Homo sapiens: one gene and its partner. Changing the gene in region 2 together with the main gene of any one other region gives a genetic interaction. Each region holds a gene or a part of one and is shown on either strand. Other genes may lie near its edges. The genes, in order: CTNNB1 and CALCOCO1.

What was found.
Region 1: of CALCOCO1 (region 2) and CTNNB1, changing one enhances a phenotype caused by changing the other (phenotypic enhancement), as found in Homo sapiens cells (one study listed by BioGRID).

What each region holds. Positions count from the first base shown.
Region 1 is NC_000003.12:41,201,200-41,216,369, forward strand, and holds part of CTNNB1 (catenin beta-1), read left to right. Parts: exon of another isoform or gene 1-1,189; intron 1,190-1,857; exon of another isoform or gene 1,858-15,170. UniProt on the Homo sapiens protein: Key downstream component of the canonical Wnt signaling pathway.
Region 2 is NC_000012.12:53,707,595-53,722,764, forward strand, and holds the end of CALCOCO1 (calcium-binding and coiled-coil domain-containing protein 1), read right to left. Parts: intron 14,590-15,170; coding exon 14,431-14,589; intron 14,022-14,430; coding exon 13,873-14,021; intron 12,236-13,872; coding exon 12,145-12,235; intron 8,822-12,144; coding exon 8,666-8,821; intron 8,454-8,665; coding exon 8,199-8,453; intron 7,732-8,198; coding exon 7,606-7,731; intron 7,100-7,605; coding exon 7,004-7,099; intron 6,648-7,003; coding exon 6,539-6,647; intron 6,307-6,538; coding exon 6,107-6,306; intron 5,613-6,106; coding exon 5,506-5,612; intron 5,253-5,505; coding exon of another isoform or gene 5,181-5,252; intron 4,528-5,180; coding exon 4,350-4,527; 3' UTR 923-4,349; downstream 1-922. UniProt on the Homo sapiens protein: Functions as a coactivator for aryl hydrocarbon and nuclear receptors (NR). Recruited to promoters through its contact with the N-terminal basic helix-loop-helix-Per-Arnt-Sim (PAS) domain of transcription factors or coactivators, such as NCOA2.

The DNA of each region.
Region 1 (15,170 bases), on a different chromosome or scaffold from region 2:
ATATAGTCTCAAGTGTTATTTATGTTATACTGCTGGTTTATTCTCTGCTTAAATTATTGACATAAATTTCTACTTTGGAGGCTTTTCGTTTGAACTAAGGCTGTGCGGAATTTATTTTACTTTTATATTTAAATCTTTGAAAAATCTCTGATTAAAAAAAAAGTACCCTTAAAGGTTTGAGGATGTCCTTTCACACCAGACAAAATTTGGTTAATTTGCGCCCAATATTCATTACTTTGACCTAACCTTTGTTCTGAAGGCCGTGTACAAGGACAAGGCCCTGAGATTATTGCAACAGTAACTTGAAAAACTTTCAGAAGTCTATTCTGTAGGATTAAAGGAATGCTGAGACTATTCAAGTTTGAAGTCCTGGGGGTGGGGAAAAATAAAAAACCTGTGCTAGAAAGCTTAGTATAGCATGTAACTTTAGAGTCCTGTGGAGTCCTGAGTCTCCCACAGACCAGAACAGTCATTTAAAAGTTTTCAGGAAAAACCAACTTAAAAAAAAATAAGGTGGCTAATTAAAAAAAAATGAAGCATTTAACAGTGTTCAGGTTTCAGAGTATGGAAGAGGGGTTTTTTAAACTGTTATCTGATTATTTCTTTTACCAACATGATATAGAAAAGTGTATTTCCAGTATTAAAATTTATCAGACTGAGCTTACTGTTCCTGTTAATGACTGGAATAAAAATTGGCATAAATGAGGGTCTGTATGCTTGTTTTAATAACACCACCACCAAGATAGAAAACGAGGAGGCAAGTTTCTCCAAGGGTATTTTGAAATGTGTTAGCAAAACTATTGCAGATACTCGTTTTTGTTATAGGGTGAGGTGGGGAGAGGCGCATGCTAAGTATTGTTGAAACTAGGGATGTAGAGAATTAAAAGTTTGAATATAATTATTTTGTAGTTATAAGTAGCAGTGAAATTAAATCTCCTGCAATAGACTATAGAAGTATATTTAGCCAAATGAAACTTCAGTGTTATTGAAATGAAATAATACATCTGTCCTGTTACAAGATTATTTTTATTTCTCTTGTGGTTTCCTAGCTTCTGATAATCAATAATTGTAGATGAGTAGGTGGTAAGTTTTAAGTTTGTACTTTGAGCTTAGTCGGAAGCATGCTTGACTGCCAACCCGGGGCACAAAGGATGAAGGCTTTTAGAACTGGACAAACTTCTAACAAAAGGTATTTGCAACTCTTTTGTAGTGTGTCATGTTGATTTGTGACATTGTTTTTGAAAATATGTGTTAACTTAGTTTTCTTGTAGCCCTCTTTTTATTGGAACTGTGGTATCTATTGTTGAAACTGCTTGACTGAGAACATTTTTATACCATAAAAGTAAATAGTAAACATAGCCCAGGAGCGGCTTCTGGTTTGTCCATCGTATGTAGCCATTGCCTCCTTGTACTCTCATTGAGAAGATACTGATTTGCAGATTCAGTTGTCCTTCTCTAACAGACTATTTATGTAATATTGCAGTTGTGATTGTGATAGGTAAGTGGACCAGTCGGTTAAAATAAATACTCAGGTTTCACAAAAGGAAAATAATATGATTTGTGTTGATCTAAATGAGTATAGGAGTTAACTCCTATAGTTTTTCATCACTTAAACTCAGGGGAAAGTTCTTTATTTCCTCTGTTTACTTAAGAATGCTGCTTTTGTGTTTCATGCAAGACTGAGCTTGACTCAGTTTGAAACCTAGGCTCATCTGTTGAGGCCTGAACCCTGCTGTCCTTGAAGTATGCATATAATTTGCTTCCTTCCTAAGGAAAAATAAGCTCTTGAAAGATAAAGTCAATCACATTAGGAACCCATTTTTAGGGTTTAGCCACTTTTTTTTTTTTTTTTTTTTAACTCATGGGCATCTCTTCTGTTAAGAGACATTCCCCACTCTCCAAGTTTCCCTCAAGCCTGAAGCAGCAGAGTGAGTAGTGTTGGAGCATGTTTTCATTGCATGCTTGGGTCATGTTGAGTGCCCTCCAGTGGATATAGTATAATGCTTGTGATTTTTTTTTTTTTAATTCCAAACAAGTTTATGTGGGATATATTTAGGAATAGTTCTGATGAGGGAGAATCAACTAAGAAACCTTTGATTTCTAAAATAATTAATATCATTACTGCTAATTAAAATACAGGCTTGAGAAAATGTCTTCTCAGCCAATATTTGCAGTAGAAAAGTCGGGAGGTTTTTTAAGGTCACTTTGAGTAGGCAGTTCTGCTTAAATATATCATAATGATAAACCAGAATCTCAGTATAGTACTTTAGGAGGTAAAAGATCATAATATTCAGTTATATTGATGAATTACAGCAACTGAAATTCTCAGAAAAAAATTAATGAAAATGTGAATTGTCAATTTGTCTAAAATCATTCACAGAGTAAAACATAAGTGCTCAACTTGATTATATTAGGAAATAGATAGAAATAAAGGTAATTGAGCCAGTGTATGTGACCTAAAATATAATGCCCTTAGTGACCATAGGGTTGGTCTCATTTGTACATAGTGGTGGGCCATGATGAACTGTGTTTTGCCCTTTGAATTTTTCCTTAAAAAGCTTTCTCTAGGCTCCTATGTTCATGGTTTTTCTGTTAGTAATATTATTTTCTGAAAATCCATGTTTCAAATCAGAATCTAATTAGCAACAGGAATGAAGCTTATTCTAAATTAGTTTTTGGAAGTTAAACGGTCAGCATATGGAAATTTTTCAGGGTTTAGATTTTTAAAAATTTGTTTTTCAGAATATGTTGCTGGAATGAAAACGTTAGCGTAGGGACGGAAAATGACACTTACCAGTGATTGCTTTACTTTGCCTGTGGAATTCAGTGTAATTTTGTGGAAACATTGGTATATGATTTTTTACTACTTAAGAAATGTATTGCTATAGTTAGGGTTTTTTTTTTTTTAAAGGCAAGAATGCCTCAAGTGCTTTATGTGAATGATTATTTCAGGATGGATTAAATATTCCTCCATCAAGGACCATACTTGTAAATCAGTGATTTCCAAGTTGGTGCTTAGTATTTACAGCATTTACTGTCTATAAGCTTCTGTTCTGATTTTTCAAGAGTTTTCTGAGAAATGAGAGTAGGCTTAAAAGTTCTTTGAAAAATTATGTACATACAACTTACTGAAAAAAATTGCTACCGGGGACTTAATTTGTCTCTTGAAATGGGCTACTTGCCTTCATTAATGTAGCATACTACAATTTGATGTTCAAGATATGTTACTAAGAATAAGATCGCTTTCAGAAGCCTTATATAGGATTGGTCTTACTACATTGTAGTGGGAATGGCTACTCAAATGTCTCCAGGGCCAGTTAGGTATTGGGTAAATGGGACCATGCAGACTATTAAAAATTGAAGTGCACATGAAGCAGCCAGTCATAAGCAGCTCCAGCCACTGTGTGGGAATATAGTTTATGTTGCCAGATCATCTGATTTCTTTCCCCTAAGTGGGAAATCCAGATCAATGTACATCTCTTGATTTGCAAGTGTTGGTGAACAAAATTCATATTTTAAGATGCTGTATTCAGCACAAATTAAATACACTTATTTGCTGAATACTGCCAGTTTGTCCCTCTGCAGTAGTACCATTTGAAGTACAGTGTTTTCATAATGATTCTGTGAAATGACTGGTTCTGTGAATGTACATAATTTAGCAGATAACATTGTTAAATTATTAGGTTTGTATTTATTTAGGCACTTGGGAAATGCCTTGTGTCAATTGATTATAGATTAGGAGCTTAAAAGCAAGATTTATATTATCAACTTATTTGTGAAGACTGGGAAACCCACATTTTTAAAGTTAGGAATTAAGATGGCCAGGTTCAAGGAAAAGGGGGAGAAGTAACTTTCTTATTACTCAACCATCTTAAATAGAGTTCTTTAAGTGTATTTTTAAGAGGTCTCAAAACTTAATCTGAAGGGACGTCAAATGCTGGACAAATTCTGTGTATACAACTCAAGTCAGCCCCCAATTTTACTGGTCTTTAAATCATGTCCTTTTTACCAGAAGTTTGCATTTCTAAGCTAAACTATTACTGTTAGACTAGATCCAAAACTTAAAAACAGTTTAGGTAATTAAAAATTAATTGAATATAAACGTTTTACTTAAATTAATGGCAAATGGCTTTTTGGCCAATTTAAGTTTATGTAGGCAGTTAAATCGATTTTGGTTAAATCTTTTGCTGCTAACAAGGTATTTCCAGATTTTGAAAAGTGGGGTGGCCTGGTGCCTGTAGTACCAGCACTTTGGGAGGCTGGGGAGGGTGGATCACCTGAGGTCAGGAGTTCGAGACTAGCCTGGCCGACGTGGTGAATACAAAAATTAGCCAGGCATGGTGGCAGGTGCCTGTGATCCCAGCTGCTTGGAAGTCTGAAGCATGAGAATTGCTTGAACCTGGGAAGCGGAGGTTGCAGTGAGCTGAGATCACGCCACTGCACTCCAGCTGGGGCAACAGAGCGAGACTCCATCTCAAGAAAGAAAAGTGGGGTGTTTAGTCTTCAAACTCCGTGTTTAAGTGACTGGAGTGAAAATGTAAATCATAGGCCGGTGTTGGTTTAAAAAGCATCATCTGAAAATAATGCTGTAGTCTGCAATTATTTTTATTACGATACGATGGTGTAAAATACAAGCAGATCAGTGAACCATTCATGAAACATTAATCCTAAAGGCGTCTCACCCCAAGTCTATCCCACAATCTCCATGAGACTTCGTGGAACCACTGTAAAGTTTCTTGTGTAATATCCCAGAAGTTTCCTACCTCTGGTATCTTTTGAACTTGTTGAAAAGGCTTTTCCACCCCCTCTTTATGATGGTTTGAAGAGTGTGAACATCTGAATGATGCTGGGGTGAAACTGCTTCATAACACTTCCATTTTCTCCCCTATTTATTTCCATATTTTTATTTTTTCACTAATATCCCCACGGTTTTACTTCTGTTTTAGTAATTCACATGTTGCTGGACTAATTCTTTTTAACTGACTTGTAACAGATATGTTAAACCGTTTAAAACTTGGGGGGTATTTTTAACCTACTTTAAGTTAGTTCAAGTTAATCAGTCTACATGGCATATAAACCTTATGATTAATAAATCTTAAATGCTGGTAGCTGAGTTGGAAGCCAAAGACGTACAAAAAAGCTGAAGTGTTAGGTTTAGTGTGATAAGCTTCTCTTACTAACAGGGTTTTGTAATAGCAGAAATAGATATATGCATATATATGTGCATATATATAGCATACCTTATTGGATGTCCATATAAAAATGTGTAAGAAGTTAAATTTACTGCAAAATTTCTTGGGAGTGCAATTTGAAGATGATCTTAAGTGGTGATAGTAGTTTGCTACACTGGGGGATAGTTGTTGCAAACTGCTCCTAATTTTCCTTTACTGTGAAGTAAACTGAACAGCTGTAATAGGGATTAGGAACTGTACTCCCTCTCTCTCTTTTTTAAGTATAATTAAGTGGTTTTGGGGTAAGGGTGTAGGGAGTGAGTGTCTTTGAAGTTTTGCATATACTAGATGAATGCCACATGTATAAGGGAGGAACAAGGGATTCTTGGAAATATTTTTCAATCCAAGTAACTTTGGAGGCTTCCAAGTGGAGTTCATTCCCCTGTGTAGGAAAGTGCTGGGGTAGACCCTTAAATTCCTTTCTGAGCCATTGAAAGAATGTCCTCAAACTTCGCTTATACTTTATAGTTCATTTAGATACAAAAGTTACAAACTGAATGCTATTTAGGAAACGTAATACACTGACATACCGCTCTTTAAATAGATTATAAATTTAGTATATCAATTTTCTGGCATTTTGCTGAATTTTATTGTTTAGTTTTCAAGCCCAACTATCTTGTTACTTTGTATATCGTAGTTGTCCCCCGTTGATCACTGTTTCCTGCTTAATTGTGCTGTCGTTTTTCCTGGGTCCTGATTCAGAGTGTCAGCATTCTGTTCCCCATAGAATAAGAAGAGGCTAGAAAGTTTACAGATGAGATATCTAGGAATGCCAGAAGATCAGGGGTCACCGTTGAGGCAGAGTAATTAATTATGGTTAAAATGGTGTTGCTGATAAGTGGGTGCTGGGAAATAATTAAAATTTGATTTTTTAGAAGAATACTTCTCATGCTTGAAGAGCGCCCTCATTATATGCTAAAGGGCCTCAGGTTTTTCCTTATTGCCATTATGCTGCAGATTCTATTACATTTGTCTGAAAAGATCTAAGACAGAAGGGCTGTTTAATACCTTCCCTTTTCTCCTGAACTTCCCCTCTCCTCTCCCCCATCAGGAGCTAAGTAGGAACCCCTTCACCTTGTTACCATCAGATTTCATCAATGGTCTGTCTTTACAATGAAGGAAGTAGTACTGCATTCTGGGCAGAGGCCAGTCCTGAGGCATGCCTTTTCAAGGACATTGTTACTTTAGTTACACTGGCTCTTCTGTTTTAACTCTTATCCCCCAGACTCTAATCCTGTTGCTTTTTTTGGTCCCCATCTCCCACCTTTCATCATCTGAAATCCATTCATTGTAACTTCTGGAACTCAGTCGTTAGAAAATCCTTTATATTCTCAATCTTGTGAATGTTCCTTTCTTTCTTATTCCAGCTGTAACCTAGCCTTCTCCCCAAGAATGCTACTTCCCTTGCAGCTCTCTCAAGTGGTGAATTTTTCCCTTCTTGCACACCTTATAACACTGAACTAGGAGGTGTGTGGACTAAATGTCTGCTTTTGTTCCTTATTGTCACTTCTTGACCTTTATTTTCCAAAACTTCAAGCTTTGACTTTCATGTGATCAAATTATACCACCCACTGCCTGTCTTTATTTCAAGCACCTGCAAACCTTCCTGGGTCATTCACATCCTTCTTTGTTCACTTCATTAGCTCTTGGCTCATTGTCACTGTCTCTTATTTCTGTCATAATTCTTGGTGACATCAGTATCTATGTAGAGCAATACTAGTGAAGATGTGGTCTGGTAACTGTTACCTGTATGAATTAAGATAAGGAGTTATGCCAGAATATAAGTCACCTGTGTCACTAAGTTTACTGTTTAGCTTACTTTTTTTGTAGCAAGATTTTGATGAAGGACGCAATATGTTGATTTACAGTCTGGTACAAATTTTGATGTAGAAGATGCTTCCAATATCCTGGTCTCTTAGTTCCTTGATTTCTTCTCCAGTGATCTTATTTTCTACCCTAACTCAACTACATATTCCCATTGTCATATCCTAGAATATTTTGTCTTTTATCTGTAACTCTGCTCTCTTCCCCCAATCTCATTTCAAGCATCCCACTTTCTAATTCCTCTAGTAAATACGTCAGTTCCAACAGCCCATCAATCCCATTGGGACCTACAGTTTATCTATCCAAGCTTTTCCCTGTTCCTCACCCTCACTTCTATACAGCTGAAGTTTCATACTGAATTATAATCACTTTCTCGTATACACGTTTAACAATCTTGTCCCTCCCTGGCTTCATGCCCAGTGATCTCTTGTATCTATGACCATGTCCTTTATCTTCTCCTCTGTCACTGGATGAACTGTAGCCTTCCAAGATAAGGCCACTCAGTTCATTTGTACAGCAGATTCCATCCCCTCTTGCTCTCAAGAATATTACTGTGGTATCTCTCTTTTCTTGTCTCTACTGGCTCTTTCCATGAGCAAACATGGTATTATCCCATTACAAAAAAAATTTTTTCTCCGTCTCTCCTTCCACTCACCACCTCAGTCTCTGCTTCTCTTTCCCGCAAAATAACCTTGAAAAATTGCTTTATGTACTCCCGTTTTCTTTTGAACCCCTGCCAGTGACCACCACGTTATAAATTTGTAGTTGTCATCTCACTTAATCTGTTAGTAGTATTTGGCACCATTGCTACAGTTGCTTGAAATGCCTTTTCATTGGTTTCCAGGCCACCATGTCTGTTAGCAGCTTTTCCTCTTACTTCACTAGCATTTCCTTCTTTGTTTTTTCTGTTATCTTTCTGACCTCTGTTGGAGTGGCTGAAGGTTTAGTCCTTGAATCTTTTTTTGTTGTGCATATTTACTCCAGTATCATAGCTTTATACAGATGGTATTTACATCTGTTTGCTAACGATTTCCAAATTGGTATCCTTAAACTGGTATCCAGCTATTTTTTGGTCAGCATTTTGGATGTCTAAGAAGCTTCTCAAACTAAACTGACCTCCCGGTTTTCCCCAAAGCTGCATCTTAGTCTTTTCCGAAATGCAATTCTGTCTTTCCAGTTACCTAGCTTAAAAGCTTGCAGTTCTTGACTCATCTTTCTCTCATACCACGTATCTGAATTCTCTCTGCAAAAAATTGTCTGTTCTCCCTTCAGAATAAAGTCACGTGTCATTTTATGATGGGGATACATTCAGAAATGCGTCATTAGGAGATAATCATGGTTGTGTGAACATCAGAGTATACATAGACAAACCTAGATGGTATAGCCTACTACACATCTAGGCTATATGGTGTGGCCAATTACTATGATGAATACTGTAGGTAATTGTAACATAAAGGTAGGTATTTTTATCTAAACGTATTGAAACATAGAAAAAGTACAGTAAAAAATATGGTATCAAAAATAAAAAATGGTACAACTGTATAAGGCAGTTGTGATGAATGGAGCTTGCAGGATATGTTGCTCTGGGTGAGTCAGCGAGTGACGATTGAGGGAACGTGAAAGATGTGGGACATCACTGTACACTACTGTAGACTTTATAAACACTGTACACTTGGGCTACACTACATTTTTGTAAGGTTTTAAAAGACTTTTTTCTATAATAAACCTTAAATTACTGTCACTTTTTTACTTTATGAATTCTTAATTTTTTAAACGTTTTCACTCTTGTAATAACACGTAGCTTAAAACATACATTGTACAGCTGTACAAAAATTTTCTTTATATCTTTATAAGCTTTTTTATATTTTTAAAATTACTTTTTACCTTTTAGCTTTTTTGTTGAAAAACTAAGACATGGGCCAGGCGCGGTGGCTCACGCCTGTAATCCCAGCACTTTGGGAGGCTGAGGCAGGCGGATCACGAGGTCAGGAGATAAGAGACCATCCTGGCTAACATGGTGAAACCCCGTCTCTACTAAAAATACAAAAAATTAGCCGGGCGTGGTGGCGGGCACCTGTAGTCCGAGCTACTTGGGAGGCTGAGGCAGGAGAATGGCGTGAACCCAGGAGGCGGAGTTTGCAGTGAGCCGAGATAGCGCCACTGCACTCCAGTCTGGGCGACAGAGCGGAAACTCCGTCTCAAAAAAAAACAAACAAAAAACTAAGACATGAACACATTAGCCTAGGCCTACAGAGGGTCAGGATCATCAGTATCACTGTATTTCCATCTCCACATCTTGTCCTTCTGGAATGTCTTCAGAGGCAGTAAACATAAATGGAGCTGCCACCTCCTGTGATAACAGTGCCTTCTGGAATACCTCTTGAAGGACCTACCTGTGGCTGTTTTATAGTTAACTTTTTTTTTTTAAGAAGTAACAGAAGGAGTACACTCTAATGATAAAAAGTATAGTAAGTACATAAACCTGTAACAATCATTATCATTATCAAGTGTCATGTACTGGACATAACTGTATATGCTATACTTTTTTTTTTTGAGATGGCATCTCACTCTGTCACCCAGGCTGGAGTGCAGTGGTGCGAGGATAGCTCACTGTAACCTCAGACTCCTGGGCTCAAGTGATCCTCCTACCTCAGCCTCCCAAGTAGCTGGGACTACACCAGGCACCCCACCATGCCTGGCTAATTAAAAAAAATTTTTTGTAGAGACAGGGTCTCACTCTGTTGCCAGGGCTGGCCTTGAATTCCTGGCATCAAGTAATCCTCCCACTTTGGCCTCACAAAGTGCGAGGATTACAGGTAAGAGCCACCATGTCTGGCCCACTGTACTTTTATACAACTGAAGCACAGTAAACCTACTGTGGTTTCGTTTACACCAGCATCACCACAAACACCATGAGTAGAACATTGTGCTGCGACGTTAACGATGGCTACAACATCACTAGGTGATAGGAATTTTTCAGCTCCATTATAATCTTATGAGACCACTGTTGTATGTGCAGTTCATCATCCACTGAAATGTCCTTATGTGATGCATGTCTTCATATCCAAAAATATTAATCATTTCTCACTGAAGCCATGCCATGCCATGCCATCTTTTGCCTGTATTATTATTTTTCAGCTTTTATTTTAGATTCAGGGTGTACATGTGCAGGTTTGTTAGAAAGAGTATATCGTATGATGCTGAAGTTTGGGATACAGTTGAACCAGTCACCCAGGTAGTGAGCATAGTACTCAATAGATAACGTTCTAACATTACTCCTCCTTCCCTCCCTGTTCTTGTCTCTGTCTATTGTATCTTTATGTCCATGTGTACCAAATGTTTAGCTCATTCTTGTGAGAACATGTGGCATTTGATTTTGTTTCTGTGTTAATTTGCTTACAATAAATAGTCTCCAGCTGCATCCACATTGCTACAAAGGACATGATTTTGTTCTTTTTTATAGGCTGCATCATATTCCATGGTGTATAGGTACCACATTTTCTTGATCCAGTCTACCGTTCATGGGCATTTGGGTTGATTGTATCTTTGCTATTATGGATGGCTTTTGCCTATATTATTGGAAAGGCCTTCTAACTGGTGTCCCTGCTTACACCGTTTTCCCCCTTAAATGTGTTTTCAACATGGTAGCCAGAGTAACCCTTTTTATAACAATAAATCGTGTAACTTTTTTGTTCAGAAACTTACAGGGCTTACCATTTCATTCAGTAAAAGCTCAAGCTCCTGTATAGTCAGACCATATCCTTCATCACCTGTTACTTTTCTCCTCTGACTCTTCAGCCTTTTTGTTTTTCCTCAAACTGATGAAGCCTTCATGGCTGATGTCAGATGTTTTGCCCATTGAGATCTTCCTTGTTGACTCAGTTGCACTTGGTCATATGATTTTCATTTATTTGGGGTATCTAATCATAATCTGAAAGTTGGCTACTTATTTTTACCCCTTTGAGGGTCCTTGCCCTGTTTTTGTATCCCTGATAGCGGGACAGCCAGATATCTGGAACTTACAGGTGTTCAATAAAGTTTTGTTGAATGAATATTCTGGAATCACCCAACCTTTTTTTTCCCCTCCACTTATTTTTCTTCTCCCTTTCACGGCCTGAAAGATGTCCTATGTATATGGTTCCACTTATCACTCTCATCCCAGTTTGTGATATACTATTCCATTATATTACTATTATTAATACAATTCCATTGAACTTGCTCTTGCTGACTTCACCACTGGACCTACATGTTGGCCAAATGGATACTTTATAATTTTAGTCTTGACCCCTGCCTTTGGCACATTTCTTACCTCTAGCACAGCACTGTCCAGTAATCCACACTTTCTGAGACAGTGGAAATGTTCAGTATCTGTGCTGTTCAGTTGGTAGCAACCAGCTACCCATGCCTATTAAACATTTGAAATGTGGCTGTGTGACTAGTGGCAATTATGTTGGAGAGTACAGTTTTAGAAACTCCTGTTTTTCTTACATGGCACTACATTTAGTATCACAATCTAATTGTGCAAGCCAGATAGGTAGGAGTCATCTTTATTCCTGTTATTTAATTTTTCTCATCTACTATATCCAGTTCATCACATCAACAGCGCCTGTTGTTTCTACCTCCTAAATATTTCTTTAGTCTAACTACTACTTGTCCCTAGTGCCACCACCATCTATCAGCTGGAATATTGCTATAGCTGCCTTACAGGTTTCCCTTCTTTCCTGTTCTCTTCTAGTTTTTTGAATTTTAGTCAGCACGAGATTTTAAAAACTCAAATAAGATTGTGTTATTCACCTGCTTAAAACCTTTCATGACTTTCAGTGTCACGTAGAACAGAAAACACTTTTCTTACCAAAGGCTAGAGAGCTCTACGTGATCTGGCTATTTTTAACGTTTCATTGCACTCACCCTTTTCCTCTATAATCAAACTACTCTGATCTCAAGGGTTAGTTCTTGAAAGATGATCATGTTCTTTAATGACTTTAGGTTTTTGTGTGTTATTTTCTATTTCTGGGATGTTTATTCTCTGTTCCTTACATGCTGGCCCTTTTGCATCCTTCTTCAGGTCTCAGCTTACATGTTACCTTCAAGAAGCCTTTGACCACTCTAAGTGGGCCCTTCCTTCCACTTCTGCTGTGTAATCCCACTCCCTTCTCCCACTTGTTAATTAGTTACATACTTTTTTGTAATTGTTTATTTGGTTGCTGTCTCCCTCTCAAGAATGCAGGGACCATGTCTGCATTCTGCAGTAATCACTACTGCACACCCAGAATCTATTACAGATCCTGGCATGTAGCTGATGCATAAATATTTGTTGAATGAAAGTCTGTACATTGTATTTATGCTATTGGTATTGCTATGACCTGAAACTAAAAGGAGTTGTGGAAAAGATTTCTTATGGAACAGAAATATCCCTTTTGATTAATATCACAATCTCGTAAATTGAGAAAACAAAAAAATATATACTACTGGAGCATTCATGTATAGTTGGAGATTATGACTCATTTATTGGTGTGTTTTTGGACTCAGAACAAAGATGAGGGAATATTCCTTAAAGCTCTGTATTGAAATAACGAAAAGCAGTCACATTTTAATAATAGAAGCTTCCTAGCTTACTCTTTCTGTAATCTTCTTTTCCTAAATGTAAGAGAGCCTCATAATTATGAGGCTTATTACTAGAGTAAGGCTGTCAAAGGCAGCAAAATGTCTTTCTGTTTGGAAGAATAACATAAACTTGACATGTATGGTGGGGGACAGAAGGTTTCAAAAGTTTAAGAATCTGTGTTGTCTTAACAAATAGATGCTTCTCAAGGAGCTTACGCTAGTGGTTACTCTGTCCAGTCAGGGTTTTTTCTTCTTTAACTTGGGTTCATTTCCTGATGGCACACATGAAGTTTGGATCATATGGTTTGACTTTAGCTATGGTCCTTAGCTATGGGGAGCAGCATCAGCGACCTGTGACATGTAAATTAAAAATACAATGCCAGGGCCCTTCCCCAGCCCCTCTGATAGAGAACCTCTTGGCCATCTGTATTTTTAGATGTTCCAGGTTAGTCTGATTAACACCCTTGGTTAAGAACCATTGGGAGGATCTGATTGCCAGTTTAAGGGGACCTTCAAGCCTGTAGGTCTTTATAGTTAAAAAAAAAAAAAGATTTTAAAAATCATGCATATGTTGTGGCTGAATTCTGGTTTAGCACATACTGCTTTTAATGGCCTGAAATGTTTTTCCCAAATAAATTGTCTTGTTATAGCTTTCATGTGTGATTTGGTCCAGCTTCTTGTTTTGAAGATACTTACGGGGGGGAACACTTTGTGATTTCTCTTAGTAACATATTAACCCACTTAAAAACCCTTTCTATTACAGGTCTTCACATTTAGGCTTAATGTGCTTAATTCAAATGTAAAAATACACCTGCCTTTGTTCTCAGTGAAAGTATGTAATAAATAAATGAGGGGTTGGCAAACTACTGCCCACCATCTGTTTTTTTATGGCCTATGAACTAAGAATCGTTTTGGATAGCTAAAAAAAAAAATCAAAAGGATAATTATTTTGTGACGTGAAAATTATATGAAATTCAAATTTCAGTTTCTGTGAATGAAGTTTTAATGGAACACAGCCATCCATGCTTATGTAAGTGTGCATATTCTCTGGCTGTTTTCACTGCAATAGCAGAGTTGAGTAGTTGTGACAAAGAGTTTATGGCCCACAAAACCTAAAATATTTACTTTCTGATGCTTTACAGAAAAAGTTTCCTGAACCTTATTCTAGCTATATGTTGTTCATAAATGAATCTTTCGTGGTTCTGAAGGCATTTAAGAATCTCTTAGGTTATAAATTGGCTGGGCGCAGTGGCTCACGCCTGTAATCCCAGCACTTTGGGAGGCCGAGGCTGGTGGATCACGAGGGCAGGAGTTCAAGATCAGCCTAGCCAAGATGGTGAAACCCTGTCTCCATTAAAAAAAAAAAAAAAAAAAAAAAAATAGCTGGGGTTGGTGGTGGGCAGTAATCCCAGCTACTCGGGAGGCTGAGGCAGAGAATTGCTTAAACCCAGGAGGCGGAGGATGCAGTGAGCCAAGATCGCGCCACTGCACTCCAGCCTGGGCAACAGAGTGAAACACCATCTCAAAAAAAAAAAAAAAAAAAAAACACTCTTAGGTTATAAATAATTGTTGTTAGCTCTCCAAGCCTCCATATTACATTTTGTGTGTTCTCCTGTTCACATTTTGAGCATTTTATTTTTTATTAGCACATTCAGTTCATCAGGTATTTAAGAGCTTAATATATGCCAAAGCATATATTAAGCGAGAAGCTGTTTCTAAATGTACTGTCTCAGCCCTCACAGAGTTCACTTCATTAGGCTCTTTAAAATTTCTTTCTTTAAAAGGTCAGCGTGCTGGTATAGTGGGGAAGGGAAACTCTTACAACACGTCGAGTAGAGGAAGGTTATCATTATGGGATATAATTTGGAAGTCATTGAGTACCTGCCATTAATTCTGCCTGTAGTCTGAATGTAGAGATTAACATGTAGAAACTTTTTTGAAATAAAATCTTCAATTTCTTTGGCATATCTAGTACTGTCTAGCTAGGCATATAGTCAAAGTATGGTGTATATTTCAAGTATTAAAAGTTTTTTTGGGCTGTAGTCACTGTTGAAAGGATATAGTTCTTTACTATTACATGTGATACCTTTATATAAAATTGGCTAACCCCTGTCTTTCATTTATCTGCAACACTGACTGTTACCAGTTGTCTCTAACTTTGGTATGGGGGGTGGAAATATGATTAGATTGAAAGGGTACATGACTGAGCCACAAGCAGACCTGGATTTGAATTTTAACTGAACGGTTTATTAGCTATTCTTACATTAATACTGCTAATCAGTTTTCTTGTGATATGAGGAATGATGTCTTCTTTATGAGGTTGCTAGGAAGATTCAATGAGATAACATACTAGGCTCAGAACTGAAGTTGCTAGGAATTTAATTATGCTACCTTGTTAAAGTATGTCAAAGGCAGAATTCAGTGTTTAGCTGATACCACAAGGCAGTATCCTAAAATTATGCTGTAAAAGATATAAAGATGCTGTAAGTGACTCAGAAACCTAGTGACTTT
Region 2 (15,170 bases):
CCATCTCAAAAAAAAAAAAAATTTTTGTTTAGAGAAGGGATCTTGCTATGTTGCCCGGACTGGTCTTGAACTCGTGGGCTCAAACAACCCTCCTGCCTTGGCCCCCCAAGTTGCTGGGATTACAGGTGTGAGCCACTGTACCTAGCCAATTCCTATTTTGTTCATGCAGCTTCTCCAATATCTAGAACAGCACCTGACACATAGTGGACACTCAATTAATACTTGTTGAGTGAATGTATGAATAAATGTCAGCAGTTCACCTTTCCAGCCTCACTTCCCACACTGGGTTAAGATCCTCACTTGGCAGCCCTACCTGAGTGTATAGACTTCTGAGTAAGTTGTCTTCGCATATTTTGTTCTTTCTGCCTGCACATGCTTGGCTCACGTCTACCCCACATTATCACCTGTGGGAAGCTCTGCCTTCCCCAGTCTTCGTTAAGTATCTGCCTCTCTGTGGTCCCATAGCATGCTGTGCATACCTCTAAAGTAGCATTTATCTTGTTTCCTTGTATCTGGTGATTTATGTCAACTAAGAGCTCTTTGAGGGTGGGGTTTTTCACTATTCTATCTCCATTCCCCGGCACCTGACCCATACAGAGCACTCTACAAGTATCCTGATTTAATAGAAACATCTCTATCCCCCAGCCTGACCAATATGGTGAAACCTTGTCTCTACTAAAAATACAAAAATTAGCCAGGGATGGTGGCGTGTGCCTGTAATCCCAGCTACTCAGGAGGCTGAGGCAGGAGAATCGCTCGAACCTGGGAGGCGGAGGTTGCAGTGAGCTGAGATCGCACCATTGCACTCCAGGCTGGGCGACAGAGCGAGACTGTTTCAAAAAAAAAAAAAAAAAAAGAAAAGAAACACCTCTATCCCAAATGACATCATATTTTGTTCTTTGAAGCAACACATGGCACTTCATTTAATGGTATTGGTAATATTTATTTGAAGCTAGTTGGTGAGCTCAATGATGTTCACTTTATTATTCATTACATATATTATTTTGTATGTATAAAACATTTCATTAAAATAACTTAAAGATTATTTCTGGAGGACTGGTCCTATGTTCCAGTCTCTATACTAGATTTTAGGAACACAGTGATGTATAAGCATAGAATCTGCCTTCAAGTTGCTTACAGTTTAGGGAGAATAAAAAGTTGTAAACACATGTAGCATCTTTTTATAAAGTGCTCTACGTGGTATGTCAAAGGATAACTGAGGGCAGTCAAGTAAGGCTCCATGTAGGTGGTATCCTTTGAGCTAGGAGGAAAGTAGTGTATGTTTTTGTGGAATGGTTCTGTTATACTGGAGTACAGGGTTCCTTAGGGTAGATGGGAAATGGAAGGGCAAGTTGGGACAGATGGTGAAGACCCTGACTGGCACACTAAGCAATCTACATTTCTCATTCCTGTAGGTAACAGGTGGCCATTGAGGTTCGATAAGTGGGGGAGTGGTGTGTTTGGATTCGTTCTTTCACCACCAAATACTGACGCGAGTTCCTATTTGCTGCTACTTGGCTGACATCTCCTTTCACATTAGAGTCTCAAGCCCATTCAGATCTATCGGCTTTTGCATGGATGCTGGGGAGCAGGGAGGAAAGGGATGATCCATTATAGAAGAGAAATAAGTAGAAAGGCTGAGTTGCCAAATACCCCTCAGTGAGTAGGAAAGAGAACTAGAATTGGAAGCTGGCTGCCCCTGGGTTTCCCCCAGCCCATGCCGTCAATTACCCTTCCTTGAGCCCCCTCTGTGTCGGGGACCATGCTTTGGATACTGGGATAGGCAAACCATGAGTAAGGAAGAGAAATGGCCCCACATTTTGTGGCACCCCCAGTCTGAAACTGCAAATTGCATGCCAGAAAGACACACAAAGGGCAGAGAAAGGAGCAGCTAGAAACTCTAGATATCCATGTTGAGGAGCCTGGTGGGGGGTTGGGGGGCTTCATGGAGGAGGGGAGTATGAAGCAGATTCGGGACAGTGAAGCAGAACAGGGCTGGAGAGAAAGGAAGGAGGTGAGAAGGACCCATGTGAAGTTTTCGAGGTTGGAAAGAACAAAACCTATACCGCAGTCCTCTTAAGTGCTTTTAGTCTGACAGTGTCTGTATCAGTGGCCTTGTGCAGCTAGCCATGTGGCTCCTGTGGGTGTATGTGCGGCTTGGCAGGGGCTGTGGCATGGGAGCAGGGGCCTGGGTTCCTGTTTGTCTACTATTCTCCTTTTTTGCACAAGGCAGCCACTCACTGGAAGCCAGGAGGTGTGGGTCCCAGATTCTTCTCGCCCCAACCTCCCCCAGAAAATAAATCACACATGATTTCATTAAATGCACCTCCTGCTGGGGATGTTGGCTCATAATTCCTCTCTGATTAACCCCCACTACCCCGGCAAGTTTATAGGCCAAGAGAGGGAGAGGGAGAGGGGGGAAGGTAAAAGGAGGGATGGGGGGAATCCCAGGCGGGTGATGGATGCCTCTGTCAGCCCAGCTCGTATTTATTAATAGTCTTAATACGGGAAGCAATAAAGGAAGAGAGGGATTCTATTAATTAAATCATTGTTATAATTAACTTTCATTAAAGGAGGATCAATAAAGAGGGGTTGGGATGGAGAGAGGAGAGATCCATTATCTCTAATTTCCTTGGAAGGGATTCAGGGAACGGGATGGGGTTGCTAGGAGACGGAGACGTGAGGGAAGAAGGAACGATGTAAGAAGTCATCCAGGTGGGGCTGGAAAGGGGGTGGACAGGAGCATTTCAGGTGAATGGAGAAAGGGAATGGTGGGGGTGGTCCACACAGGGGCCCTGAAGGGAGAGGAGGGCAGCTGAGAAGGGAGCTATTGGGTTGGAGGACGAGGGGGTTGTAGGCATGTGCTTGTGCAGGCCATTGCTGAGAGCCTTGGTGAGCGTGCAGGTCCTTAACAAATGCTTTACGATGCTGTGTATGTGTCTGTCTAGCCTGTGAAGCTGGTTAGAGTGGATGAATGTGTTTTTGTGACTGTTGAGGCAGAGTGTGCATACAGGTATGAGGGGATGGCAACAGAGAAAGAAACAGAAACAGAAACAGGAGGAATATAAAATCGCCTTTAGAGGTATGAGGCTTAGGGCATTTTTTACTAAGTAGATACTCAAAGGTGTACGCTCTTGACAGGAATAAAGCCTGTCCTTTGGCATAAGGTACAGTGATGGCTGCTATGAAGGGTGAAGTTCTCGGCAGTGGGAAACTTGTCCCACTTTTCCATGGCATGCACCCACCCTGGGACTAAACCCTGAGCAGAAGTGACAGGGACCCATGAGTTTGCTCCCTCCCCAACTGCCGCATTATCCAAGCCAGACTCCCACTTGAGACAACCCACTCATGGCCAGCACACCAGGAGGCACGACAGGACAGTAACTGCCCAGCATCCCCTGCCATGAGGCAGGGATGCGTCCCCTCTTTCCCTCCTCCCTCCACCAGGGTCTAAGAGCTGGAGGTCTGGGCCCTGTGTTCCAGTCACACCTCATGATAAGAACACATTTTGTGACAACAGTCATACATATCATATAAATATATTTGTTCAAACTACAAAGGGATGGATATCAGGGGGAAGCTTTTATTGCTGTGGGGGGACCTGGAGAGGGAGGGGGGCCTTGGAAATGGGGATACCTGGGACCACTTGTTCCCCCCATTCCTCACAGAAGGCACAAATACATTATTTCTTTCCATGTGAGGAGATGCGAGGAGAGGATACAGAATACAGGAATCCTCAAAAATACAAAAAACCCCTCCAAACTGAATACCTAAGGTTATGGAAAAGGCTAGGGTGGGGCACAGAAGTCAATGGGGGAACAGAAAGAGGAACCAATGAAACTGAGAACCAAAAGGGACCTGAGAGGCCATGATGTCCATGCTGCTGCCTCTGTGCAGACCCCAGAGAAAACTCAGGTAAACCAACGGAAACTCCAAATAAGAGAGGGTAGGGTGCCCCAGGAATTGGCTTTGGGGCATCAGACAAGGGAGTGTGAGTGTGAGTGTGTGTGTGCAGTGGCTGTGTATCAGAAGCAACCAGGGCTAGGAGTGGACGATTCTATTCCCACAGGGGAAGGCCTCCTCCATCCCGGTTCCTCCAAAACCACTTTCAGGGGATAAATTCAGCCACTGCTTCCGAACAGGACCCCTCCCTGGGACAAAAGAGCCAGGTAGGAGAGGATGAAGTGAGAAATCTTGGGATGAAAACAGGGCACACAGAAGCAGTTCTTAGGGAACAGAATATCATGGAGCCCAGTGTGATAGAAAATGGGCATGAAACCTAAGTGTATGCATGTGTGTGAGTGTGTGTGTGCATGAGTGTGTATTTGTGCATGTACGAGGGAGTAAGATCACTCAAAGGTGAAGGGGTCCTGGGTGCTGAAAAAGAAGTGTCCATCCATGTGGTCCTCCAGGGCATCCTTGTCACTCTCAGCAGGAAAGCGCTCCTTACAGATAGGACACTCCTTCCATGTGGGGGTGGCAGGGCCCCCAGTGCTGGTTTCTGACAGGGTACCCACTGTAAAGCCACTAAGAGAGACAGAGGGGAAAGGGAGAGGGTCGGCGTGCTCTGTTCCCTTCTTGACTTGCAGACTTCGGAGAGCAGGACCCATGTGCCTGGGTTCCCAGGTTATCCTGTGCCTAATGCAGCATCCTGGCCTCTCCCACAGCGTCTTTCTCCCCACAATCCTGGAAGGCTTATTTTTCCAGTTCCCCATGTCCTCTCTTCTTTAGTCCCTGCTGGTCTCTGCAGTGCAGAGCCCATCCCCCAGCCTCCTGCTCTCCTCCCTCCATCTCCGTCTGCTGCCTAATGAGGCTGAAAATGAGTCTGACATCGTCCTTCATCTTCCTGCTCCAGCCGAGAAGGATGACAGCATCACCCCCTCCCTGCCCTGAGCCCATCTCACATCCAGGCAAAACCGGGACTAGATGATCAAATCTCTCTTCCCTGTGCCTGCCCCCTTGAACCTGGGAATAAAAGGGAAGGCAGAAGGGGACAATCTGATACCTGAAACCCCCACCTCTATAGGTTCCCTTCCCTAAGGGTTACCCAGGGAAGTCAGGGAAGAGGGAAAGCATTTCAGTTGTAGCCAGATGGATGCTGGATCCCAGTCTTCTCTCTGCTCCTATCCCTGGGGGCCATGGTCACCTCCCTTCCTCCCCGGAGGACCCTAGGTACCTACCTGGTGGTTGGGGAAGGGGTAGAGGCAGGAGAGAGGGGAAGCAGGGCAATTTGGGCTCTGCAGAAGATGGTGCTAGAACAACATAGAAGCCAGTTAAAGGCAGGACCTCTGAGTGCATTGATAAGATAGGGGTAGGGATTACCTGAAGGCATCTGGGATTTGGAGCAGTGAGTCATTTTCCTTGTTAACCATACCTGTATCTCCTTTTCTTGGCTGAGGCCAAGAAGGGCAGGGGTTGGGAGCAGGGCCTGGTGACTGTCCACACAGATGCCCTTTCCCTCTGACCTCCTCCCACCTCCCTCCTGGCCTTGCTGGTTGAACTCACCTGGCCATGTCATAGAAGGCACTGCCCAGTTCAGGAAGCAGTAAGTTGGCCTCCTCACCCCCACTCTGCACAGCTGCCATCAGGACTGACTTCTCATCTTCAGCCTCCTGGATGCCAAAGAGACAGGGTTGGGCTTTGGGGTGGTGTCCCAAGATGGGGGAGCAGCACATTGGGACAGGTATGGGAAGAGCAGCCAAGGCTAGGACAGTGACCTGAGGGGCTTAGGAAGAGTGAGGCAGGAGAGGCGTTTTGAGGGGCTGGTGAATAATAAGAGAATGACTGTGGGGGAGAAGCAGTGAGGCTATTGGGCTGGTCTGGGTTTTGGGATGATATCTACTGGTGTGGCACTGAAGAGAGGCTGGGCCTGCCTCCTCTCCCCTGGGAAAAAGAGAGCCCTGGATAGCTAAGATTCCTTCTCTAATTAGCCGGGGGTGCCTGCCTGTGGTCCCAGCTACTCTTGGGAGACTGAGGTGGGAGGATCGCTTCAGCCCAGGAGGCAGAGGCTGCAGTGAGCCAAGATCGTGCTGCACTCCAGGCTGGGACACTTGGGTTTGGCCCTGCCCCTCCTTACTGCTTCTGCACAGGCTCCTCCACTGCTCACCGAGTCAGAGCTACTGTCCTCAGCTGGCCCAGAGAGGTGAGGAGAAATGGGAGCCGGCTGGCTGATGACAACAAGGGGAGAAGCCTCTCGAGGCCCAGCAGGAGAGGAGCCTGGGTCTCCACGCTCACAAAGGCCATAGGGTGGGAGCCTCATGTCTTCTGGGGACTCGTCCTCTGAGTCTGTCAGAGCTGCCGGGCAGCCTGTAGGAGATGAAGCAGGCAGAGAAGAAAAAAGGATGTGTTGTGAGGAGTTGGACCAGCTGTCTCCTCTGGATGAGGGGTATCATTAGACTAAACAGGGGCCAGGGTCTGGGAAAGAAAAGGCAAAACACATAGAAGGCAAAGGCAGCTCCCAGCAAGGTTACATGGAGCCTTCCTCAACAGCGGGAGGTAGAGTGGGGAAGAGGTGTTACAAGATTGGGGCTACACGGACTCAGCCCCACAGCGGCCTCCTCATCCTCTGTGGTGGCATCCTCATTCCACTTCTCATCTGCCACCTTCTCCAGGCGGGCCTCTAGCTTTCTCATGTACTCTAGCAATTCCTGGAATTGGGAAGGAAAAAGGCAGGTGCTAGAGAATGGGAAGGTGCCAACCTTGCTAGCCTGCAGAAGCTGCACCCAAGAAGAACTCTTAGCTCCTCAGCATTAGATGCCTTCAGCAAAGATTGGGGCAACTTCAGGCAGACACTCCCCCCAGCACCCCTGCTTCACCACTTACATCCCTCCCTTCTCCCAGAGATCATCCGCTGTCCTGCCAAATCAGCTAATAAGAGAAGCCAGGGTACGGGCCCTCTTGGAGAGAACAGTTTCTAAGCCAAGAGATGACAGGAATTTACAAAGTTTCTAGCCCTCAAGTCCTCACCTGTGGCATCCACGGGGCCTGGGTTATGGGTGCTCACCTGTTTCTCCTCCTGTAACTGCTCCTTTTCCTTCTGGAGCACACGCAGGGCTGACCGCAGCTCTGTCAGCTCCCGCTTACTTTCTGACAACTGTACCTGAGGGAAGAGGGCCCAATGGAATCTGGAGCCTAGAATGTACCTCCAAGAACCTGGACTCTGGGACCAGGACCAACAATCTAGAACCAGGTCTCCCCATGCCTCTGCTTCTTCCCTGCTCTGACACACACACACAGGAATTCCCAACACTTCCTCCATGAGTACTTTGTCTTGGGCCACAGATACTCAGTTTTCTAAGTCTTAGTCTCTGCCTCTCGAGTGGGGACCTGCATGACTTCCTCTAGGCTGGGGTGCAGAGGCCTTGGTCATACCAAGGGGCCACTCTATAATTCTCCTAAGTCACCTCTACTGGGCCCAGATGTGTGCCCTGAGAGCAGAAAAAAATGCACATTTCAAACCAATGAGGGCTTGCGTGTGCAAGTGAAATGCCACCCAACATGGTAGTGGACACCTAGCACTTCTGAGCCCATACCCAAGACAGAGAGAAGGGGTATGGATGCCTCAGGAGGCCATAGGACAGGACCCTTGGTGGCTGGATGCCTCACCAGGCTAGAATCCTTCTCCCGGGCCAGCTCAGTCTTGAACACTTGGTTTTGGGTCCTCTCCTCCTGAACTGCCTTCTCCAATCGAAGTATCTCTGCACTCAGCTTCAGGATCTTGTCCTTCTCTGCCTGAGAGATAGCCAAGAAGGAAAATGGGAGGGTGGAGGGGGAAGAAAAAGGAACGCCACTGTCAACAGCACCATCCCTTACTGTGTCCTTTCCTTTATTTAAAGCATCATTTTTAGAGCACTTTCCCCTTTTTGCCTTCATTTCCTATACCCTCTGAATGAAGGACAGGACATGACGGCAGGTGCTGCTTGATCAGGAATGGGCATTATGGCAGGGCCTGGGGTCTAGGACAGAAAATGTTTCTGTTCCAAGGAAGGTACTCTGGTGATCAGGATTGGGATACCCCGGTTAGGGATGGGTCATGCCTAGAAAGTAAAGTGTACCTCCCTCAAAGCCCCTCTCCACCCAAGTCCTCTAAGGTTCTCAACCCCTCTTCTCTCCTCCCAGAGGGTCTGACCACATGTAGGAGTCCCCACAGAGGTGGGGGCAGTGGCCATCAGATTGCCAGGTACCCCCCATCCCTCTACCTCCACACTCTGCAGCAGCCCTGCCCGCTCCTTGCTCCATTGGCATTTTTCTTCCTTCAAGTGCAAACCGAGCTCAGCCAGCCTGCCGTTAACTTCAGCCACTTCCAGGCGGCTGCGGTGTAGTTCGGCTATGGTGCGGTCCCTGGCTGCTGCTGCACTGGCCAACTCCTCCCCAAGAAGGGTGGCTTTCTGCTGGCTTGAGGCTGCAAGCTCCTGGGCCCCTCGAAGCTGCTCCTTCAAGGGCTCCAGCTCGGCCTCAGGAGAAAGGAGGAGATGGAGATCAGAGTTCCTAGTGAATCATTCATCAGCCAGGGAGGTAAACGCTCCCTCCACTCCACTGCATTAGGACTCGGGGTTGTGTTGTTTAGTCTTTAGCCATGTCTCTCCCCTTCTCTTTAGACACGCAGGCTTCTCTACAACTTGCCCTTGGAATTTCCCGTTTCCTGTTGCCAAGGGGCCTCACTCACCACCCGCTGCTGGGCCTGGCCTAGGGTGTCCTTCATCTGGGCCACCTTGTCTTTCAGTCGCTGAGCCTGAGCACTCTGCTCCTCTTGCCAGCTCTTCGCCTCCTTCAGGTCCAAATTTAAGTGATGGTTCTCCTGTTGTGCCACTTGGAGCTCAGCCTGAGGGAAGTGGAAAGCAGGTAAGGAAAGGGGTATGTGTGTTGGGGTGGCTCGGGAGGTGAACCATTGTGATGAGAGAGGTCAAGGTTCCACTTCTCAGATTTAACACACACTCAAGCCTTCAGCTATTGCCAGCCCTTCTTGGGTTCTCAGCTCAAATAACTCAATCCTGCATATCCAGTCTCCAGCTCCCAAATTGAGGTATCCAGCATCGCAGCCTTGGGTCTTCTGTGTAGGCATTCCATGTACCATTTCTGCTACTCTATTCTTTCTCTTAAATCAAAACTCAGTCTTCATGCCCTACAGGCCCCTTAAACTCAACAGTCTACCTCTCACCCCATCCCAGTCTTTCCTACTCTTATTTCCGTCCAGGGTACCAACTAGCTCCCACGTTACTCAGGATGGAGTAACCTGGTGCCCTTGGTGCCATGCTTGGCTCTGTCCTCTCCCTAGCGGCCCACAGAAAAACCTATTGCTTCTCCATCCTGGTCACAGCCATTTTCCCTTCTCTATTACCACCACAACCACGTTATCTCAGACTCTGGTCATTTCTTGCTTGGACTACTGAATAACTTCATAAATAGTTCATTCTCCACAAGGGAATCAGATTATTCTTCTTTAGGTACAGTTCTGATTCTTTAAATACAGTTATTTTCTTTTTTAGAGATAGGGTCTGGCTCTGTCGCCAAGACTGGAGTGAAGTAGCATGGTCACAGCTCACTGCAGCCTCCAACTCCTGGGCTTAAGCAATTGTCTCAACTCAGCCTCCCCAGTAGCTGGGATTATAGGTGTGTGCCACCACGCCTGCCTAATTTTTGTATTTTTTTGTAGAGATGAGACAGGGTCTCACTATGTTGCCCAGGCTTGTCTTGAACTCCTGAGCTCGAGGGATCCTCCTGCCTTCACCTCCCAAAATGTTGGGATTACAGGCGTGGGCCACTACACCTGGCCATAAGTACAGTACACGTCACCCCTGCTTGAAAAATCATCAAAGCCTTTCACGCTTGTGGAATAAAAATGAAGCTCAAGATCCACCACAGTCTAACCTAGGCCTTATCTCAAACACTTCACCCGCACATTCAACTGCCCTGAGTGTTCTGGCCTTTAAGCCTTTGCTCACGTCTTTCTCTGTTCCTAGAATAGCCTCACACTCATCTCTGTCTACTCATATTCTACCTATTCTCACTGCTGAGCAAAGGGTTTTTTAACAATCTTCCACATAAACCCAGGGTACTGAAGAAGGGATTTAGGAGTTCTGCAGATACTTGATTTGAATGTCTTCTAAATTATTAACAATTATGTTAAAAAAAGAAAAACAACACAAGGCCAGGTGCAGTGGCTCATGCCTGCAATCTCGGCATGATTTGGGAGGCCGAGGTGGGCGGATCACCTGAGGTCAGAAGTTCCAGACCAGCCTGGCCAACATGGTGAAACCCCATCTCTACTAAAAATACAAAAAATTAGCTGGGCGTGGTGGCGGGTGCCTGTAATCCCAGCTACTCAGGAGGCTGAGACAGAAGAATCTCTTGAACCCGGAAGGCAGAAGTTGCAGTGAGCCGAGATCGCGCCACTGCACTCCAGCCTGGGCAACAAGATGAAACTCCGTCTCAAAACAAACAAACAAAACAAATAAAACCCATAAAATCACAAGTTAACACACTGGAGATCACCAATTGACATATGTTTCCAGGTTAATTCATTTTTTTGCAAAGCTCAGAATAGTTTCTACTGTATTTTCTATTGAATTGAAGAGTAAACTGAGTTGCAAGGTGGACAGTTTAAAAATTGTTATTTGCACCTACTTGTGTGTGACTCAAGGTGTTCTTGATATTGTACAACCAAAATAAAATACGGAAATACATTAGTTGCTGAGGCTGGCAGAACAGTCTTCGATAGCCTCTCATTTCAAAGTTTGGTATGCCTCAAAATTACCTAAGTGCTTTCATTACCTTTTAAGTAAAGGTTATACATTCAAATTTATAAAAATAAATTTATAGTAATAAAACATTGTTTTTGTTTATTCAGTGAGATTCCACACAAGATTAAAAACTTTATTGGTGGGAGGAGAGGAAAGGGTTCTGCTAAAAAGGTTTGAAAGTACTAGGCCCCACACCCCACCCCTTTTTTTTCTGAGACAGAATCTTGCTCTGTCACCCAGGCTGAAGTTCAGGGGTGCGATCACAGCACACTGCAGCCTTGACCTCCTGGGCTCAAGCAATCCTTCCACCTCAGCTTCCTGAGTAGCTGGGACTACAGGTGCATGCCACCATGCCTGGCTAATTTTTAAAATTTTTTGTAGAGATGGGGTCTCACTACGTTGCCCAGGCTGGTTTTGAACCCCTGGGCTTGAACAATCCTCTCGCCTTGGCCTCCCAAAGTGTTATGATCACAGGTGTGAGCTACCACGCCCAGCCATGGCCCTCCCTTTTTTTTTTTTTTTTTTTTTTTTTGGCACAGAGTCTCACTCTGTTGCCCAGGCTGGAGAGCCGTAGTGTGATCTAGGCTCACTGCAATTTCTGCCTCCCGGGTTCAAGTGATTCTCCTGCCTCAGCCTCCTGAGTAGCTGGGATTACAGGCACCTGACACCACACCTGGCTAATTTTTGTATTTTTAGTAGAGATGGGGTTTCACCATGTTGGCCAGGCTGGTCTTGAACTGACCTCAGGGGATCCGCCTGCCTCTGCCTCCCAAAGTGCTGGGATTACAGGCATGAGCCACTGTGCCTGGCCTCCACACCCATTTTAAAAAGACTTTTCTAATGTCTCTAACAAGATGTGTACTCATACACCTCCCTGGAGCTCCACAATACTTTATTAGATTTCTCTTGAGGCCAGGCGCAGTGGCTCACACCTGTAATCCCAGCAATTTGGGAAGCTGAGGTGGGTGGATCACTTGAGGTCAAGAGTTCGAGACCAGCCTGCCCAACATGGTGAAACCCTGTCTCTACTAAAAATACAAAAGTTAGCTGGGCATGGTGGCACATGGCTGTAATCCCCGCTGCTCAGGTAACTGAGACGTGAGAGTTGCTTGAACCCAGGAGGCAGAGGTTGCACTGAGCTAAGATCGTACCACTGCACTTCAGCACAGGAGACAAAGTAAGACTCTGTCTCCAAAAAACAAACAAAAAAAATTTCTCTTGTGACACTCTTATATTCCACTTTTCCACTCTGACTAATCCTGATTTAGGTATATGTCTTATGTTCCCTAGTAGAGTGCACACAATGTCTTCTTTACATTTTTATTCCCTTTGGTGTCTGGCTCTCGAGAGGGAATCAAACACTGGCTGGACAATGGAGAAAGCAAATCAACTCTGAGCCCCTTACCTCACTTTGCTCCTTGTCTGCTTGTACTTCTTTCAGTTGCCCAAGGAGCTTCTCTTGTTCCCGAGTCAGGGCCTTCACTGTGTCTCTAAGCCTGTGATTGGTGGGATGACATGTCAGACAATCTGCTCCACCCAGAGAAGGAATGGACTCAGGCCTCTGTCTTGTGCTCTGCTGCTGCTGCTCTAGGCCCAGAGCTCCATTTCACTCTGGGATGCATAAATCCCCAAGCCAGCTGATCCAGTTCTAAGCCCCAGGAAACCAAGATTCCAGGTTCTAGAGAACAATTTAGACAGAAATAGTTTTTCTTATCTTTTTGTGTAATATTTTAAGGAATGTTTTGCTGATGGCTCCCATTGTTTTCACTCAATCAAGAGACTAGAATCTAGTCTTTTTGAGACAAGGGCAGTCATTATTGATTATAAACTTTTGATCTAGACCAGAAGTTGGCAGACTCTTTCTGTAAAGGGCCTGATAGTAAAGATTTTATGCTTTGCAGTCCATGTGGTCTCTGTGGCAACTACTCAACTCTGCCATTGTAGTGCAGGACCATCCATTGACAGTATGTAAACGAATGAGCATGATGTTTCAATAAAACTTGAACACAGATTTGAAGTTCATACAACTTTCACATGTCACAAAATATTCTTCTTTTAATTTGTTCTTAACCATTAAAAGATGTAAAAACTATTCTTACCTGTGGGATATACAACAGGTGGCAGGCTAGATTTGGCTTGTGGGCCATAGTTGTTGACCTCTGGTCTAGATAGCCCCTAATCTTTTCCAGATGCTCAATCTGACCACTGCTTTTCTAACCTATGACTTAGAATGTAGACATCTAATATCTCCCTAGGGTGAGACTAACATATCCTGAAGAAGCCTCTCAGACGAACTCACTTATTACTTTGGGCCTTGGATAGAATGCCTCTTTCTTTTAAACAGTTTTTTAAAATATCACACCTACCAGTAGTAAATGAAACATAATTTTGTCATTTAATGAAATAAGGAACTAGAGTGTTTAAACTGGTGAAAATTTGAAGGATGGACATGGGAGGTGGTGGTTAATATTTATGCTACTTGGTAGAGAAAACAATTTTCTGGAAGAAGAAAGAAATTTATTCTGTGTGGCTCCAGAGGTCTCAGGACCCCCTGGTAAGTTATAGGAGAGGAGAGTTTGGCTCAATACAAGAGATACAAAAATGACAGCTGTCAAATGTTAAAGAGGCTGCCTCCTGAGGGTGACCTCTTACATACCCTCATACATATCTTACAATCCCAGTGCTAAGAGTTTATGATTTGCATCTTTTTTTTCCAGGGCAGAGATTCCATAACATTCCTGGATCACCAGTTATAATGTTTCTTAATAGTAAGAACACAGTCTAATCTTATCTTTCCTGTGGCCACATCTGAAATCCATCCTCTCTTATCTTGCACTGACTTCCATCCATTCTCTTCTTCCAAATCCTCCACTCCTAGCTCTTGCTCAGCTTTTGCTGTACAATAAGTGGTAACTATGATTATTTCTGAAGTGGAGGAATACAGAATAGCATTTGGAAAGATGGTAGAGAGCTCGGCAGAAAAGGGTATCCCCAGTAACTAGCTTGAGTGAGGGTGAGAGGGAAAGAGAAAGCGTGTGAGGCAGACAGCAGGTCTGCTTGCCTGAGAGAGGGGGCTGGAGTGCGGGGGTCATGGAAGGGAGAGGAAGTGACGGGGTCAGTGGACTCCCCTCACCTGTCCAGCTCCACTTCCTTCGTCAGCACTTTCTCACTGATGGTCTGGATGTCATCCTCTAGCTCCAGGATGCGTGCCACATGGTCTCCCTGTTGCCGGCTCAGGATGTCCCTCTCTTCTGTGATCTCCCCATGGGACCGGGAAATCCCCTGAAATTAAGTTTCCCCCAGAAGAAAAGGGAGGTTGGGACTCATCTCTCAAGTGGTGGAACAAAGGCTTAGGAAGAGCACACCAGGGTCTGACTGCTTCCACCTGGCTATCACATTGCCTTCCTTGAAAAAGAAACTGTAAGGGAACATTCCCTTACCTATCAACGTGGCCACCTCCACCTTACCCCAGCATTCCTATGTTCAAAGAACTGAGTCTCATTACACGTTTGGAACATGTCTCTTGTCACATCAAGTTTAATCCCAGCCACTACCCCTTAAACCTATTTCCTTGATGCCAGAACCATTGTAAAAGCCCACTAACATCTCTCCTTCACCCTCTTCACTGGGTTCAGATTTTGGATGCTGGGTGAGCAGCCAGGCCCTGTCCCCTACCTGGCCCAGCTCCCACCTTGTACTGTTCCATCAGCTCCGTGTGCTCCTGCCTGGCAGTTGCCAGAGCCCTCTCGAGCTCCTGCACTCGGCTCCTCAGCTCTGTCACCTGTCCCTCCAGCTGTAGCTTCAGCTGCATCAGGTCATTCCGTTCTTGCTGGCTCTCATCGAGCTGGTTCTACAGGCAGCAGAAGGAGAAGGGGAGTGTGCTGGTGGAGTACCCCTTCTAAGGTCCCATCCTCACCACTCTCCAGGTGCATTTTGGGTTTGGGAAGTTACATAGCTTTGGGTTATAAAGAGGTGAGGAAGGGGATGCTCAGTGTGCTACCGAATCCCGTCCACCACCCAGTCAGATGCACCAGCTCATGGCACTCTGAATTGCCCATCTCTCTTACCCCTCCCCACTCTAGGCCTGGCCCTTTCCTCATCCAGCAATTGCAGGAATCCCTCATGTGGCACAAGTCAATGAACACAGACACAAGGGATGGGTCCCCTAATTTTACCCTATCTGCTCTGGAGTTGGACAGACTTGGGTTCAAATCTTCAGTGCAATTTTTACTAGCTATGTGATTTTTTTTAAAGATAGGGTCTCACTGTGTTGCCCAGGCTGGAGTGCAGTGGCTAGCCATAGGTGCAACCATAGCATACCATACCTCAAACTCCTGGCCTCAAGCCATCCTTCCACCTCAGTGTCTCCCCCAGTAGCTGGGACTACAGATGCATGCCACTACACCCAGCTAGCTATGTGATTTTGAACAA